Regions from separate parts of the Homo sapiens genome. Here region 1 is linked to region 2. Evidence: fine-mapped expression QTL. A gene starts in region 2. The other region holds a variant in brackets. All regions are shown on one strand. Distances are from middle to middle. Region 1 overlaps SNX29 (sorting nexin 29). Region 2 holds the start of SNX29-AS2 (SNX29 antisense RNA 2).

Evidence for each region. PIP is the estimated chance that this variant, and not a neighbour inherited with it, causes the effect.
Region 1: its variant is fine-mapped to the expression of SNX29-AS2 in testis (GTEx, PIP 0.98).

The regions. Positions count from the first base shown.
Region 1 is chr16:12,214,805-12,223,143 of GRCh38, forward strand. The region is part of intron 14 of SNX29 (sorting nexin 29); the gene reads left to right. Among named protein-coding and RNA genes, the nearest start is that of SNX29-AS2, 150 kb to the right of the region's middle. The variant C/T (reference allele first, on the strand shown) is at 5,086.
Region 2 is chr16:12,368,495-12,376,833 of GRCh38, forward strand. SNX29-AS2 (SNX29 antisense RNA 2) reads right to left here and starts at 4,107. Exons shown (of 2, transcript NR_188406.1): 1 at 4,038-4,107. All of the region lies in intron 16 of SNX29 (sorting nexin 29), which reads left to right. LOC105371087 (a long non-coding RNA gene) reads left to right here and starts at 2,012. Exons shown (of 3, transcript XR_933083.4): 1 at 2,012-4,415; 2 at 4,508-4,534; 3 at 5,175-7,553.

The DNA of each region.
Region 1 (8,339 bases), 150 kb before region 2:
TCCATGATTTCCCTGCCATCATTTTTGCTAGTTGGTCACTCCCAGGTCTATTGCTGCCTATTTTATACTTTAAAAATGTAATCTCTTTATTTCTGTGGTGACAGATTCAAGAAACATTAGCCAGGATATAAGGTCATGAGAGTAGGGACTGAGTTGATGTTGATACTGTTGTGCACCTAGCTTCCAAAACAGTGCCTGGTCCCTGGTGGGTTATCAGTAGACATTTGATGAATAAATGAGTGAGTGAATGCATGAATGAGTTTGCTGAGCACCCAGTAATAATAGCCAACATGCATTAAGCACCATTGCTAGACCCTGTGCTAACTGCTTCATGGCAACTGTCCTGTGAGGTGGGTACTATTATCCCCATTTACACGGGAGAACTGAAGCTTAGAAAGGTCAGAGACCGGCTGGGCACGGCGGCTTCCACCTGTAATCCCAGCACTTTGAGAGGCTGAGGTAGGAGGAGGGTTGCTTAAGGCCAGGAGTTTGAGACGCAATCTCTACAGAAAAAAAAAAAAAAAATCAGAAGGTGTATAATGGGGCCAGACTCTCTGGGCTAAAGTCCCCTCCATGCACTCTATGTAAGTATTAGATTGTTATCATCAAGCGCTTTGCCCCAGGTGCACAGCTGGGGAGTGGCAGGGCCTGGATCTCTGATGTCCTGATACAGAAGTGAGTAATACTCTATATCTACCCACCTGGGGCTCATAGACTGGGGTGACTGGGTAGGCACAGGAACCTGGGCTCCAGAGGGGGGTGCCTGGTCTTTTTAGTTCAAGATTTCTGCCAGGCAGTGGAACAGGCAGGCAGGTGGACCTTGAGTCCTATGATGCCCTAGTTGGGTGCACTTAATTAGAGTCACTGGGAGGCATTTGAGGTACGTGCTGTACCCAGAATTCCTCAGCTTGCACAGCTTCCCCTTACCCTTTGTTTCTGATTTTGTCCTCGTAATCTCACTGTTTTGGGGAATGAATTCCTCCAAAAACACCCCGTTTCCTGCCTGTGGAGCCAATTAAGCCAAGCAAGGCTGTACCTTTAATTACTGCTGCCCTCATTTGCATCTGGCTGCCCTCATTATAGTGCTATTAGCAGAGTGCAGGGGTCCTCCTGCTGGCCCATCAGGAGTGGTGCGTGCACAGTTGTGGGGCCTTGCTTTGGTGGTCTTTGCTGCCTTCTGGGCAAAATGAAGGATTTGGAGTAGACAGCAAGCAGGCATACATCCTGGGCCAGAAGCAGCCTGCGGAGCTCATCGTGGCTTGCCTTAAATTGTTTCTCAACAATAAAGTTGTTGAAAAACAATTTGTGTTTTCTTTCTCCTTATTAAAAACCCAAAATTATATTCATTATAGAAAATTAAAGAAGATAGACACAAGAGAAAAAGGAGAAAATAAAATATCATTGATAAACCCTCAAGCACTGTTAATATTTTGGAATATATTTTTCCGAGTAGGTATGGCACTTTGCCACAAACAGTCTTGGGAGAAGCATTCTCTGCCTGAAGGGCTTTGTGACCCCTCCCCTGACCCTTTCCTTGACACATGGACTTTTTATGGGCTCAGAAGAAATATGATGGCACAAAAAGCAATAAATCATTGGTAGGGAGTTTGGGAAAATCAGATGAAGGTACAATGTGAGTGTACATAACATCAAGCACCTGCCAGCAGCCAGCCACACGTGTGTCCGAGATGACAAGAAGTCGGGTTTGATGGGCATGCAAGCTGACCACTGGTCTTGTCTGCTCCTTCATGTCTTCCTAAGGAAGGTGAGACAGCATTCATTATGCAGCCTGTACTGGGAAGCCTTATAGCATGAAGACTTAGATTGTGGGTGTTGGCCGAGAAAGTTCTAGCTCTGCCCTTTGCTAGCAGTGTGACCTTGGGCACATTGCCTGCCCATGTGCCCTCCCCACCCCACCCACCCCTACATCTCGTTTTGGATCATTTCTGTTGCTGAGTCTTCAAATTCACTCGCTTTCTCCATTTCTGTTGCTAAGTCTTCAAGTTCATTCATCTTCTCCATTTCTAGTGCTGAGTCTTCAAGTTCACTTGTCTTCTCTTCTGCAGTTTGCCCACGACACTTTCATGAGGCCACAGCTAGCTGCAAGGGATGCTGGGAAACATAGTCTCTTTGTTTTCCACCTAGGTGGCCAAGCACCCAGCAAAAATTGCTGATTTTCTTGCTAAACACAAAAAGAATGGGTATTAGGGGACACCTGCTGGGTTTCTTTTGTTTTTGTTTTGAGACAGGGTGTCCCTTCATTGCCCAGGCTGGAGTGCAGTGGTGTGATCATGGCTTACCTCATCCTTGACTTCCCAGGCTCAGGTGATTCTCCCATCTCAGCCTCTGAAGTAGCTGGGACTATAGCACACCTGGATAATTTTTTTGTATTTTTTGTAGAGACAGGGTCTCACGATGTTTCCCAGGCTGGTCTTGAACTCCTGGGCTTGAGCAGTCCTCCTGCCTTGGCCTCCCAAAGTTCTGGGATTATAGGCGTGAGCCACCATGCCCAGCCCCCAACACCTGCTGTTTCTGCCACACTTGTTTGTTAGCAGCCACTGTGCTTTTGATGAGCCATCTGGGAGGAGGTTCTGGCTTTGCTAGAGATACGGTGATGGGGTCAGTTCAGTGGAGACATGTGAAATATGGTCTCTACTCAATACTTTGAAACCTACAGGTGGTAGTGTGTCTAACACCTGTAGACAGGTAGTACAGGTAGTATATCTACCACCTGTAGTATGTCTGCCACCCGTAGGTGAGGCAGTGACTCATCCCTGTTTGGGTGAAACAGGATTGATCCTTCTCTTAATGTTTCAGCAGTAAGATGGCCAGCTGCTTTTAGTCCCATGCTTATTTCCCCTGTAAATCTAGGGTGTTCTTGGAGCATGAATGATTGGATTTACCATGGGCATATGTGCTGTTTATCTGCTATTGATCAGTGCCAAGTGAATTTCATTCAACTGGAATTCAGACCCAGGTCTAAATCTTGGCTTCATGCTCATGTCATTTGGGGATGGCATAACTCAGCCTCATCCTCCATCTATAAAACGTGGATGGTAACTGCCTGGCTTACTGAACAGTAGATCCAGGCTTGTGAGTGTAAGTTTTAAACTACTCTTTCTGTATAATTTGGTTCCTCATTGGGAGACAATAAAATTTTTCTTGGTTTCCCATGACTTGTTATCACTTTTCCCACCTTTTGGGGACAATTTTTAGCTGGAGAGTTCCAATTATGACAGTTGACATCCAATTAAATATGAATTATGGAAGGCTCTATTATTTGCAATGATAAAAAAATTGTTTGGATATATTACAGAGAATTGATTTCAGTGGAAGTAGACACTGGAGCTTGTACTTCATACTTTGATTTTTTAAATAATTTAATACTTTATTAGATTTTTAAAAATGAGTAATATATGCCCTTTATAACAAGTCTAGCAGTGCAGAGGTACGTAAAGAAGTTAATCTCTCCCGATGCTACCCTTTTTAGATCACCAGAGGTAATCACACAAATCTACTCCACAAACAAACGTATATCTATTCTTCCTATTTCTTTTCCAAAAATGGAATTACAGTCTATGTCAGGAGTTGGGAAACCATGGCCCATGGGCATGCCACCTTTTTAAATAAAGTTTTATTGGATCATGGCCATATTCATTCATTATTTCCATCTCCGCTTTTGAGCTATAACACAAGAGTTGAATAGTTCTTGCAGAGACCTGTGGCCTGCAAACCCCAAAATATTTACCATCTGGCCCGCTGAAGAAAATGTGTGCTGATCCCTGGTCAACCTTGCTTTTTTCAGGTAAGAGTGTATCACTGAACAGTCAGGAATTTTCCTCCTGATCAAAAGATGTATAGCTAAATCATTAATATCTGCATATTAGAGTCCATCATGTGGCTATGCTATAATTTTTCAAATCATTTCCTCATAGATGGAATTTAGGTTGTTTCCAGGTTTTTATTTATTATATATTATTTATTTTTTTAGACACAGTCTCGCTTTGTTGCCCAGTCTGGAGTGCAGTGGCGCGACCTCGGCTCACTGCAAGCTCCACCTGCCGGGTTCACGCCATTCTCCTGCCTCAGCCTCCCAAGTAGCTGGGACTAAAGGCACCTGCCACCAGTCCTGGCTAATTTTTTGTATTTTTAGTAGAGACGGGGTTTCACTGTGTTAGCCAGGTTGGTCTCGATCTCCTGACCTTGTGATCTGCCCGCCTTGGCCTCCCAAAGTGCTGGGATTACAGGTGTGAGCCACCGCGCCTGGCCCTGTTTCCAGGTTTTTGCTACTACAAAGAGGATTGTAGTAAGCTGTCTCCTTATATCCTGGGGCCTTTTGGCAGGAAGGAGGTTCAGAAGTGCTGTTGCTGATTCAAAGCGTGGGTGCAGCGTCCATCATTTGGTTTGCAAACCACATGTTATATCGTCAGTTGTCATCTTTGATCTACATCATCTTTTTTTTTTTTTTGATGTAACATCTTCTATAAAAGTGGTTTTCAGTCCTTTTTGACTGTGGCCCACAGTAAGAAATACTCTTTTAAGCATACACATATGTGTATATAGTCATTGAGACACAACCTTCTGGGAACAATACTTAACCTTTATTACGTGCAGAACGTTCTCATGTTTTATGTCCTGTTCTACTCTGTTTTAGCAAACGCCACTTGTGACTTACTGATTATTTTCGCTACCTTGCTAATGACATACAACCTGTAGTGTGAAGGCAGTTGTTGTGTAGAAAGGGGTAATATTCTGGAATGCCGTGGTGTACTTAAGTTTGATGTTCTTGTCTGTTCGTGAAGACCATTCTTCCCTTTCTCTCTTCCTTATTGAATGTATAAACATGTTTTCTCTTATTGAAAATTCATGCGTATTTTAACACATAATGTTTTTCTAATTGCAAAGTGACGCACAGACCAGTTTCCTCTGGAAATGAGGATTGTCCTGTGGTTTTTGTGTTTCACTGAAAAGAGTGGATTTAGGGGCTTTGCTACCACCATGCAGTGTAGACATACCTCTTGGCCAAGCCACCTTATAGGTGATTTGTCCTATCTTGGGTCTGGCTCAATCACTCGTACATTGATC[C/T]GGGTACCCCTCACTCCACAGCCCCCCAGCGCACACACGTGTACACACACGTGCACGTGCACGCACACACACCCCACCGGTACCTGTCCCGGCCTCAACTCTCTCTGTGTCCCTGACTGAGTGTCCTGCTTTGTTGGCTTTGGCCCAGACAAGCCTTGAAAACTGATTCTGCTGTTACTCCAGGGTCTCTTGCGACCTGCAGCCTTATTTTAGTAAGAAGAACCCCCACCCTTTCGCCACCGCGCTGTGAGTTGGAGGTAACAAGAATGTGTGTTATTTCACAGAGCTGAGAAGCTTGGGGTGCAGGTGTGGCTGGATCCAGGTGCTCAAACAGTTTACCAGGAAGATGCATCACTTTTTGTGTTGGTTCTGCTTCCAGTGTAGGCTTATTTCATTTTCAGTCAGGTTTTCTTTATGGGAGGGAGGGAGGGAGGAAGGGAGGGAGGGAGGGAGGGAGAGCAACAGATTCACAGGCACAAAAGCCCTGGGAGGTTAGGGGCCTGCATAGGACCCAGGGTGGCAGGAGGAAGAGGTGAGAGATGAACTGGAGAGACAGGCAGGGGTCAAGCAGGCAGACTCTGCGTGACCTGCTATGAGGCTGTGATTTTATCCTCAGGCTAGGGGGACCTGGTGAAAAATGGAAAGAGTGAAATGACCTGAGCCAATTTGCATGTTTCTTCCCTGCTCGTGCTGATCTCCCCTGCATGTTGCGTTGTTTCTGTGCACATCAGAGACTGGATTCTGCCTTTAAAGGGATGGTTACTTTTAGGCACCTAAAATATTTTTCTTTTCTTTTCCTTTTAATTTCTGACATTGTTTGAATTTAATGATTCATATTACGAATTATTCATGAAAATGATCTTTTAAGCTTCTTATAATAGCTGAAATTATCCGTCATTAGATGCTGACAGTTCCTGTGATGGGTGTAATTATAAAAACATATTCTTAGGCTGGCTATATTCTGCAGTGTTAAAATTACGCAAATGAGCAAGGGATAAGAATAGCAGCTGAGTAGGATGGTCAGGTTTTATGGGAGAAGGGGGGTGGTAGCGCTGCACATTTTCTAAAAATGAATAAATATGTGCTGTACACATTAAGTACGTCTTTATTACAGTCTGCCTCGATGCTCACCCTCTCTTCATTGGCAGGGGAGCAAATTAATTTTAGCGCCCTGAATTGTTTGTAGTTCTTGCCCATATATGAATCGTATGATGAAGTTTTTTTTTCTTCTTCTTCTTCATTCCACTCGGCATTTTCTGCGAGGCACACGTAGTAATCTCTGGTACTTCTGAAGAATGGCAAACTTGGCACTGATACGCAGCAGGCTGAGTGGGGAGGGGAGAGATTGGAGGGTGGGGGCAGAAAGCCGGGGGTCACTATCTAGATCACTGAGCCTGGGAAATCAGGCCCTCGTCTTGTTCCTGTCCAAAGGGTGACCAGATGGACCAGGTGTGGTGGCTCAGCCCCGTAATCCCAGCACTTCGGGAGGCCGAGGTGGGTGGATTACCTGAGGTCAGGAGTTTGAGATCAGCCTGGCCATCATGGTAAAACCCCATCTCTACTAAAAATACAAAATTAGCTGGGCATGGTGGCACACATCTGTAATTGCAGCTACTTGGGAGGCTGAGGCAGGAGAATCACTTGAACCCGGGAGGTGGAGGTTGCAGTAAGCCAAGATGGCGCCACTGCACACCAGCCTGGGCAACAGAGCAAGACTGTCTCAAAAATGAACAAACAAAAAAAGGATGAACAGATGGGCTATTCATGGCTTATAGTGACCAGCAACTTGGGTTTAACTTTGGTGGCTTTGTGGGGAAGTATTGGGAAGGGAAGGACTGAACATCCGTCGCATTTGCTGGAAAATTGTGGCGCCCAGGGCCCTGCATGCGTTGGTCCTGTCTGCCTGCTCTCCAGCGTGTCTGTTGAAAATGCCCCAACTGCCTCTTCCCCGCATGATCCCGTGCTTCCTTGGGTGCACTAAGGAACTCCCAAGAGAGGGGTTGTTTATTCCAGGGCACTGTCACTGACCGTACCATCTCATTTCAACTCATCAGCAGTGACGAGCAAGTGAGCTCTCCCTTCTCCCTGCCTTGGAACTGGACCTTTCCACGTTAGGTAGAGAGGATGATAAAGAATAAAAGCTAAAATTTAAGTAGTGCTAACTCCATGCCGGGCACTGTTTGAAGATCTGTACATTGACTCATTGAATCGTCACATAAGCCTACATAGGTAGGTGCTATTACGATCTTCATTCTGCAGATGCAGAAACACAGAGAGCTTAAGTCACTTGCCCAAGGTCACAGAGCAAATTAGGAAACAGAAACAAGCCTGGTAAAGTTACATTGATTTCTGATGGGTGCAGGGGTGAGGGTGGGTTGAGGGGGTTGTATAGTGGGAGAAATGGTTGATCTGCCCACTGAAACATTCTCAAACAAGCGGGCTTGAAATTGATGTCAGCCCATCCTCTAAGCCTCTCCTTTCCTTGTTAGCTCTTCCACAGTGGACATGCATTGTTTTTATAAGGGAAAAAGACCACTTGATAAAAGACAACCACCAGCTTGTATGTTTACATCGAATGGACATTCAGTTGGGGCAGCTTCCCGCTGGGCTTCTGGTGCAGGCAGGAAGAAGAGTGGGGCTGGCTACTTCATATCTGGGTGAAGCTTCACAGTTTGCAGAGTGCTGTCTTTTTTCTTTGAGACAGAGTCTCTCTCTGTCACCCAGGCTGGAGTGCAATGGTGCAATCTTGGCTCCCTGCAACTTCTGTCTCCTGGGTTCCAGCAATTCTTCTGCCTCAGCCTCTTGGGTAGCTAGGACTACAGGCACCCGCCACCATGCCCAGCTAATTTTTGTATTTTTAGTAGAGATGAGGTTTTGCCATGTTGGCCAGTCTGTTCTCAAACTCCCGACCTCAGGTGATCCGCCCACCTCAGACTCCCAAAGTGCTGGGATTACAGGTGTAAGCCACGACGCCCAGCCTGCAGAGTGCTGTTTTCATTTGGATGCTTTGACAGCCCTTTGAGGCCACAGGTGTAGATATTATTCTCACTTTGAAAGTGGCTAAACTGAGGCTCAATGCAGGGCTCTGCAACTGGCAAGTGGCGGAGTGGGCAACTGAGTTTAGGTCTTTGGATTCTAAATTTGGGACTCTGGCTCTTGTCTCCTTTTGACACTAGTGATCTGAAATGCGTTTCCTCAGTGTGAGTTGTCATTATGAGTAGGGTTTCTGGAGTCAGACCATGTAAGGGTGAACC
Region 2 (8,339 bases):
AAGACTACGGAGATGTAGCAGACGTGGAAAATACAGTCCCTGCCTTTGAGAAGGTCAAAGCCCAGAATATATTTTGTGTGACTTGTGTCTCTCTGGCTTCACTTCATGGTTATTTGGCATGGAGACAGAGGTCCTGCTTGGATAATGCTGAGATCTTTCCTGCCACTGATCCTGAAGGAATAGAAGCTGGGATTGGAAGGCAGCTTTTTACCCCTCCGTTCTACCTGTCCTGTCTTCTCTTCTCCAGCATATGTTTGTGAATGCATGGTTTGAGTTTGCCGCTCACAACGTCACCTGCAGGAGAAGTGACAGGCAGCGGCCACCAGGATTCTCCTGGGGCTCACGTGCCCCTTGTTCTCATTTTAGTTACCACCCATTCCTTCTTGAAATGGCCTCTCTGTTCTTTGAATTTCATCTGAACCGGGTGCACAGATATGGATTCATCAAAATCCTGAGCTCATGACCCACATTCATTATTGGTGCAGGAAGGCCTGCTCTGATTGAATAAGTAAGCTTCCTCTGATCTCATTCTTGGTCTCTTATAGAAACTGCCCCCAGACTCCACTCACCTCTCCCACAGGGAGTAATCTCAAGACCCTGGTTCTTTGCTCCTGCCTGGTATGCATGTTATTAGCATGTTCATATCTTTTTTTTTTTTTGAGACGGAGTTTTGCTCTGTCACTCAGACTGGAGTGCAGTGGCTCGATCTCGGCTCACTACAACCTCCGCCTCCTAGGTTCAAGCAATTCTCCTGCCTTAGCCTCCCGAGTAGCTGGGATTACAGGTGTGTGCCACCGTGCCCAGCTAATTTTTGTATTTTTAGTAAAGATGGGGTTTCACCATGTTGGCCAGGCTGGTCTTGAACTCCTGGCCTCAAGTGATCGACCCACCTTGGCCTCCCAAAGTGCTGGGATTACAGGCGTGAGCCACCGTGCCCGGCCGCATGTTCATATCTTAATATGATGTCATGAGCATGGGAAAGGGGTTCCTGTGCCTGGGGCAACCGCGTGGGACTCCTCTAGAAGCTGGTCTGGGCCAGGTCCTCTCCTGTACATGGTCAGGTGATGACACTGTCCTTGACCATTTCATTTCTGTCATCCTAAAAATGTGGACCCTCCCAGTGCTTTCCATTCTGTCTCAGTGCCACCTTGTAAATCTCACTGGCTATGACGCATCCCTCTAGATACTAAGTTAATTTGTTCAATTTCTGCTAAATTAACACACACAGTATTTCCAGGGATACATAATAACCACATGATTATGTTAATAGTTGTACAAGTCTTCTAACTAAATACATTATACTTATTCCTTAATTTAATATATTTATTTCCCTGCATTGAGGGTTCACTTCTTGTTAGTCACACCTTCCGCACAAGTTGCATCTGATGTTCTATGTATTTTTTGAACGATTTCTTCTTATTTGAAAAAATCTTTCTTTGAGGCCAGGCACAGTGGCTGATGCCTGTAATCCCAGCACTTTGGGAGGCTGAGGTGGGCTGATCACCTGAGGTCAGGCAGGAGTTTGAGACCAGCCTGGCCAACGTGGTGAAACCCTGTCTCTACTAAAAATACGAAAAAGTAACTGGGCGTGGTAGCATGTGCCCTTAATCCCAGCTACTCGGGAGGCTGAAGCAGAAGAATCGCTTAAATCCGGGAGGTGGAGACTGCAGTGAGCCAAGATGGTGCCATTGCACTCTAGCCTGAGAGACAGAGCAAGACTCCATCTCAGAAACAAAACAAAACAAAAACAAAAACAAAAAACAATCAACAACAAAAATAAAGGTGGCTGGGTGCGGTGGCTCACACCTGTAATCCCAGCATTTGGGAGGCCAAGGCGAGCGGATCACCTGAGGTCAGGAGTTCGAGACCAGCCTGGCCAACGTGGTGAAAACCCATCTCTACTAAAAATACAAAAATTAGCTGGGTTTGATGGCAAGTGCCTGTAATCCCAGCTACTTGGGAGGGTGAGGCAGGATAATTGCTTGAACCTGGGAGGTGGAGGTTGCAGCAAGTGGAGATTGTGCCATTATACTTCAGCCTGGGTGACAGAGCGAAACTCCGTCTCAAAACAAATAAATGAAGGTACATCTCTGCTTCCTTGTCTCTTGGGCCATCAGTCACGTAGGCACTTTGGGCGAGGCACTGAGCAGCACCAAGGGCATCTTCCGGCGTGTTCTGGGAGGCTTCCCCATCTCCCTGAAATGAGTTTATATAATCTCCTAGTAAAAGTCAATGCTGTTTCGCTGTGTGTTTCATGGAGTTTGGTTCCCTGGCCAGCTGGTCTGTGGGAACCAGAGCAGTTTGTGCCTAGATTCATTGCTGTCTCTTTTCTGGGCGACCAGCACGTTATGTGATTAGATGGGAATAGATATGTTTTGGTAAAGGGATCCCTGATTTAGTTGCAAAAAGCCAAGCCATTGGCTCCCTTTGACCTGTTCTTCTGGAAATAACCTCTTCTTGAGGGGTGGGCACCACCTTGGTATTACCTACACCCCAGTGTTCTTGGGCCACAGCTTTCTTGCCCATGAGGTCTGCAGAGCTGCCGTCCTGGTTTCTGAGGAAGGTGATTTTGTTGATCAGAGTTCAGATGGTGTTCTCCCAGATATTCGAAAATGGAGGGCCTTGTCCATCTCAAAGCGGTGGTTGGGGATGCAACTGATGTTGCCAGCCAGGCGTTGGGGATCAGCCAAGGCTTTTGATAAAGTTGGAAGAACTTCAAGCTCCTTTGGACCAACCTTCCTTCCTTCCTTCCTTTCTTTCTCTCTTCCCTCCTCCCTCCCTCCCTTCCTTCCCTCTTTCCTTCCTTTCCTCTTTCCTAAATAGAGACAGGGTCTTTCTCTGTCCCTCAGGCTGGAGGGCAGTGGTGTACTTATAGCTCACTGCAGCCTCAAACTCCTGGGCTCAGCGATCCTTGCACTTCAGGCTCCGGAGAAGCTGGCACTATAGGTGCATACCACCATGCCTGGCTAATTTTGTTATTTTTAAAATTTTTTTGTAGAGACAGGGTCTTTCTATGTTGCCCATACTGGTCTCGAACTTCTGGGCTCAAGCAATCCTGCCTCAGCCTCCCAAAGTGCTGGGATTATAGGCGTGAGCCACTGCACCCAGCCAGATTTTTATTTCTGTTCGGGGAGAGTGGCTTCCTTTCGTTTCTCCTGTCCAGGGTGTCATTGCCTATGCCAGCCTGAGTGTGTGGGCCTCCTGTGGGAATCGCCACACTGTCCTGTTAGAGCAAAGCTTGCAGCCAACTCTTGCCCCCAGTGCTGCAATGCAACGCAGATATTTTTTAGCTTTGTTTTAAAAATAATATGGCAGATGGCGAAGCAGGACCTGACTCTCGCCTTCGCCCTATGTCTTTTCGTCTGCTCTTTCTCCACCGAGTCCTGTCCCTCAGCATTTGCTCCTCCTGTTCCTTCTACTTCCATCGCTCTGCATTTTCACCATTTGTCTTTTAGAAGACATGGTTTAACATTTTTTCTAAGTTATATAAATAATATAAAAATACATTTCTGAAAGAATATAAATAATGCACAACTATCTAGAGTACAAAAGACAAGTGTTCCCTCCTAGCGATCCTGCTGTGAAGCGTTTGGTATATACCCTTCCAGGTATTTTTTATGCATTTGCATATAGGCAGGCATATATATACACACACACATGCCTAACGCACATCTATTTTTAACACAAATGGGATAATTTATACTGTTCAGATTGTTTTGAGACTTTGCATTCTTCAGTCATGAATATATGTCGACTTCCTCCTCTTTCACACTCTTCCAAATCTTCCCCATCCTTCAAGGTGTCATTCATTCTTTGAGAAAGCCCCTAGTGGCGCTGTCAATAGTGAGTTTTGGTAGGTACGTTTCTAATGTTCTTTAAATTCCTGTAATCCTCTTCCCCTCTGGACCGCTCACTTTGTCTAATCTTATGTTGTTCTTTGTTTATTCATTAGTTAATTAATTCCGTTGAGCTACACTCAGTTATTTGGCCCCCAAGAAGTTTGTCGTCGGTGGAAGACACAGACATACTAAACATACCTTGCCCTGGAGGTTCATGAGGGGGTGGTAGATGGCAGGCTGTTGATGCACAGTAGTTGAATGAAAGAATGAGCAATGAGTAAGAAATAGAATTCTGTAGGTATCAAGTATAATGATGGCACAATGGTGGGGTTAGTTACCTGCTGGGGTATGTCATGGAAGGTTTCAAAGAGGAGACGTTTGACTTGAGTTTTTAAGGATGAGTTGAAGTTGATCAGGAAGATGGGCCTGTTAGGCAGCGGGAATGGTGGTATCAATCGACATGGTTTGCTCACAATATTCTCATTGCTAGTTTCATGGATGTATCCTGTGGCTTCTCCATGAGATAATGAAGTTCTTGAAAGTGGGAGTGTCATTTACACTCCTACCTGCAGACAGGTATACTGGCACTTATTACATACCAAATCCTATTCCATGAGCTGTGCATGTAGTAGCAAGCACTGATGTAGGTTCTCATGTCTCCATTTTAGAGATGACAAGACTAAGGCACAGATAAGGTAGGCAATATCCCCAAGTCTCCATGTCCCCATGATTAGTAGGAGATGGAGCTGTAAGTCTCTTTTTAGAGTCTTCATGTCCTCACCTTTATTTCTTTACATTTTGTATTTTTAATTTTTTTAAGAGACAGTCTCGCTGTGTTGCCCAGACTGGAGTGCAGTGGTGCAGTCATAGCTCGCTGCAGCCTCCGACTTGTGGGCTCAAGCAGTCCTCCCACCTCAGCCTCCTGAGTAGCTGGGATTACAGGCATGCACCACCACACTTGGCTAACTCAAATTTTTATAGAGATGGGGTTTCACTATATGGCCCAGGCTGGTCTCAAACTCCTGGGCTCAAGTGATCCTCCTGCCTCGGCCTCCCATAGTGCTGGGATTACAAGTATATGAGCTGCTATGCCTGGCCCATATCCTCATCTTTAAATGGGTCTAGGAATGCCCACCAAAGAGAGTTGTATGAGGTTTTAAACAGTAAATGCCTCTAAATCATCCAAAGTAGGGAATAAAATATCAGCTTATATCATAAACTTGGTTAAAATAGCACTCTCCTGCTTTATTTTTCCTCATAATACTAATGCTACTTGGCATAGAGTTGTTTATTTGCTCTCTCCTTTGTCCATTTTATGTATGGCTGTGTCCCCAGCACCTGATACAGAGTATAAAGCATTGGCTGAATGCGTGAATCTTAGTTCCCGCTTTTCACCTTAGCATCCTGACTACCGATGCCCTGAACACACATGGTGAATTTGGCTGAAATGAAGCATTCTGTGCCTGCCCCACAAACCACCAAGGGACTGTGGGTTTATTTGTCTCAAGATGGTCAACACTGCTGTTTTCACATTTTACTTGCTGTCAAATATAAAGAGATATCATATGTTGCCCGCCTCTGGTTTTCCTGATGTCTCAATTTAAGTGGTTTCCAATTTGGGTATGAAATTATCCATCAGTCACAGAGAGAACTGGTGCCTTCAGCAGTGGCTGTTGGAATAAGCCAGGGCTTAACTGGGGAAGCTAATGGTGGAGGAGCAAGGGCTGGCTAGCAGAGGTTTGGCCCTGCTCCTCCAGGTCCCCTCTGGAATACCACTTCTCCCCACTGGATGGTGGGCTGTGTCTAGCCCATTCCCCAAGATCCAGTTTGGATGACACTTCACCTATTTATTCATTGGATGCTAATAGTGTCTTCCCTACGCCAGGGACTGACCTAGGCATCAGGGATGCAGAGAGCAGGCCTTGGTCACTGTCCCCTGGACTCACACAGTCTGCAGCCTGGTGGAGGAGACACCATGTGAGCTGAGCTATAATGACTGAATCCAGTCCCTCACCAGATGCAGTAACCTACAAGTGTCTGTTGCTCAGAATGTCTTTATTTTGATCAGTCACTTCCACAGAGGACTGCCCAAAGAGACGCCTCTGTCCAGCTCTCGGGTCTGTCTGTGTGGAGTACGAGGCGTGTAGCCCTGGTGATCGTAGAGTGATGTTAGATGTCTCAGGGTCAGGTGTTGAATAATATGGGCTCTGCTTGGGAAGGTGTTCCCCTTTTCCTTTTGGCCATGCTGGTGAGGTCTGAGGTTGATGCTAGCCCGGCTTTAACTCTTGGAGACCCTGACAAAGTGAGTGTGGGCCTCTGGGTCATGGTGCCGTCGGCCACTGGGAAGTTCCGAGCTCTCAGATGCGGCTGCAGTAGACTCCGCTCAGAAAGTCCAGACGCCTTGAGGCCAAGGCTCACCCCCAGATCAGCTGCAGGAGAATCTCTTCAATGGGACCTGGGCACCTCTCACTGTTTTGCATGATTCTGATGCTCCTGAGGTTGAGAACCACTAACACTTAGGATTTAATGACATTTGGCTTTCATCAGATCCAGTTGCCTTCTAGTGATACTGGCTTTCTGTTTGCTAGAGTGATACATACTTTCCTTTTTAAGTAAATGTTATAAGTGAAAAAAGATGAATGGTGTAATCCCACCCCAGGGTCACTTGAGCCCAGGAGCTCCAGACTAGCCTGGGCAACATAGTGAGACCCTGTCTTAAAAAAAAATGCATGGATTGAAAAGGCAACGTTATTCAGCAACAGTGCAAGTGGGAGGCGAGTGTAGCAAGAATCCTGGTGGTGCTTTGTGATGCACCGGGGTTTGGGGAACACTCCTCTAGATTTTATCCATGGATTGCAGTTTTAGCCCCCATTATTTTGGCGCCCATAGACTCATTGGGAATGATTTGACATTATGCCAATGACTCATTAAGTGCAAACAGCAGAAATAGCTAAATGAAACAATTTAGAAATAGCTAAAAGGTACAATTTAGTGATTGTATCTTTCTCTGTGTAACAAATTGTCCCAACACTGAGAGGAAAAAGGACATTTGGCAGTGACAGCATTTACCATCTCACAGTTTCTGTGGGCCTGGAGTCCTCGTGCCACTCAGCTGGTTCTCTCTCCAGGGTCTCTCCCAGGCTGCAACCACAGCCTCAGCCGGTGACTGCAGACACCTCAGGGCTCTCCTAGGGAAGGATCTGCGTCCAAGCTAACCCGTGTGGTTGTTGGCAGGATTCAGTTTCTTACGGACTCTTGGACTGAGGGCCTCAGTTACTCTCCAGCTGTTGACTGGAGGCCACCCTCGGTTTCTTGCCTATCCAGGCCTCTTCACTGCGGCCAAAGAAAGCAAAAGAGAGAGACCAACTAAATGGGAATCAGGGTGTTTTGTAGTCTAAGCTTTAGAGGTAGCATTCTGGCCGGGAGCAGTGGCTCACGCCTGTAATTCTAGCATTTTGGGAGGCTAAGGTGGGGGTGCATTTGAGGTCAGGAGTTCGAGACCAGCCTGGCCAACATGGTGAAGCCCCATCTCTACTAAAAACACAAAAATTAGCCAGGCGGTAGTTACACACGCCTGTGATCCCAGCTACTCAGGAGGCTGAGGCAGGAGAATCACTTGAGCCCGGGAGGCGGAGGTTGCAGTGAGCCAAGATCGACCCACTACATTCCAGTCTGGGTGACAGAGCGAGACTCCGTCTCAAAAAAAAAAAAAAAAAAAAAGTGGCATTCCATGATTTCTACTATATTCTACTCTAATCTGTTCATTAGGACAGAGGCAAGTCACTAGGGCCAAGCCACACTCAGGGGATTACCCAGGAGGTGAGGACCAGGAACCGGAGCCACGGGGTCTGTTTTAGAAGGCTGCACACCACAGGAATATCACTGAAGACAGCCCCCACGCCACGTCCCTGGCACCTTTACTGGCCCCCCGGGAGCGAGTTGTCACAGGCTGAATGCCAGGTGAAGCCGAGCAATCGCTAGTTATTTTATGGACGAAGTGAGTCTTACAACCGTGTTTGCACTGTACTTTGGTCACAAATCATCTGAGCCAAAATTACTGCTTCCCTGTAATTGATTATGTAGGAATGATTGATTGGTCGTATTGAAAATCTGTGGCAGGGGCCAGGCATGGTGGCTCATACCTGTAATCTCAACACTTTGGGAGGCCGAGGCAGGTGGATCATTTGAGGTCAGGAGTTTGAGACTAGTCTGGCCAACATGGAGAAACCCCATCTCTACTAAAAATACAAAAATTAGCTGGGCATGGCGGCTGGCACCTATAATCCCAGCTACTCAGGAGGCGGAGGCAGGGAGAATTGCTTGAACCTGGGAGGCAGAGGTTGCAGTGAGCCGAGATCGCACCACTGCACTCCAGCCTGGGCAACAAACCAAGACTCTGTCTCAAAAAAAAAAAAAAAAAAAAAAGAACAATTCTATGGCAGGAGTTTCTGCAGACTGACTCACCCTGGCCTCTTCTTCAATAACGTACTTTGTTTCCCT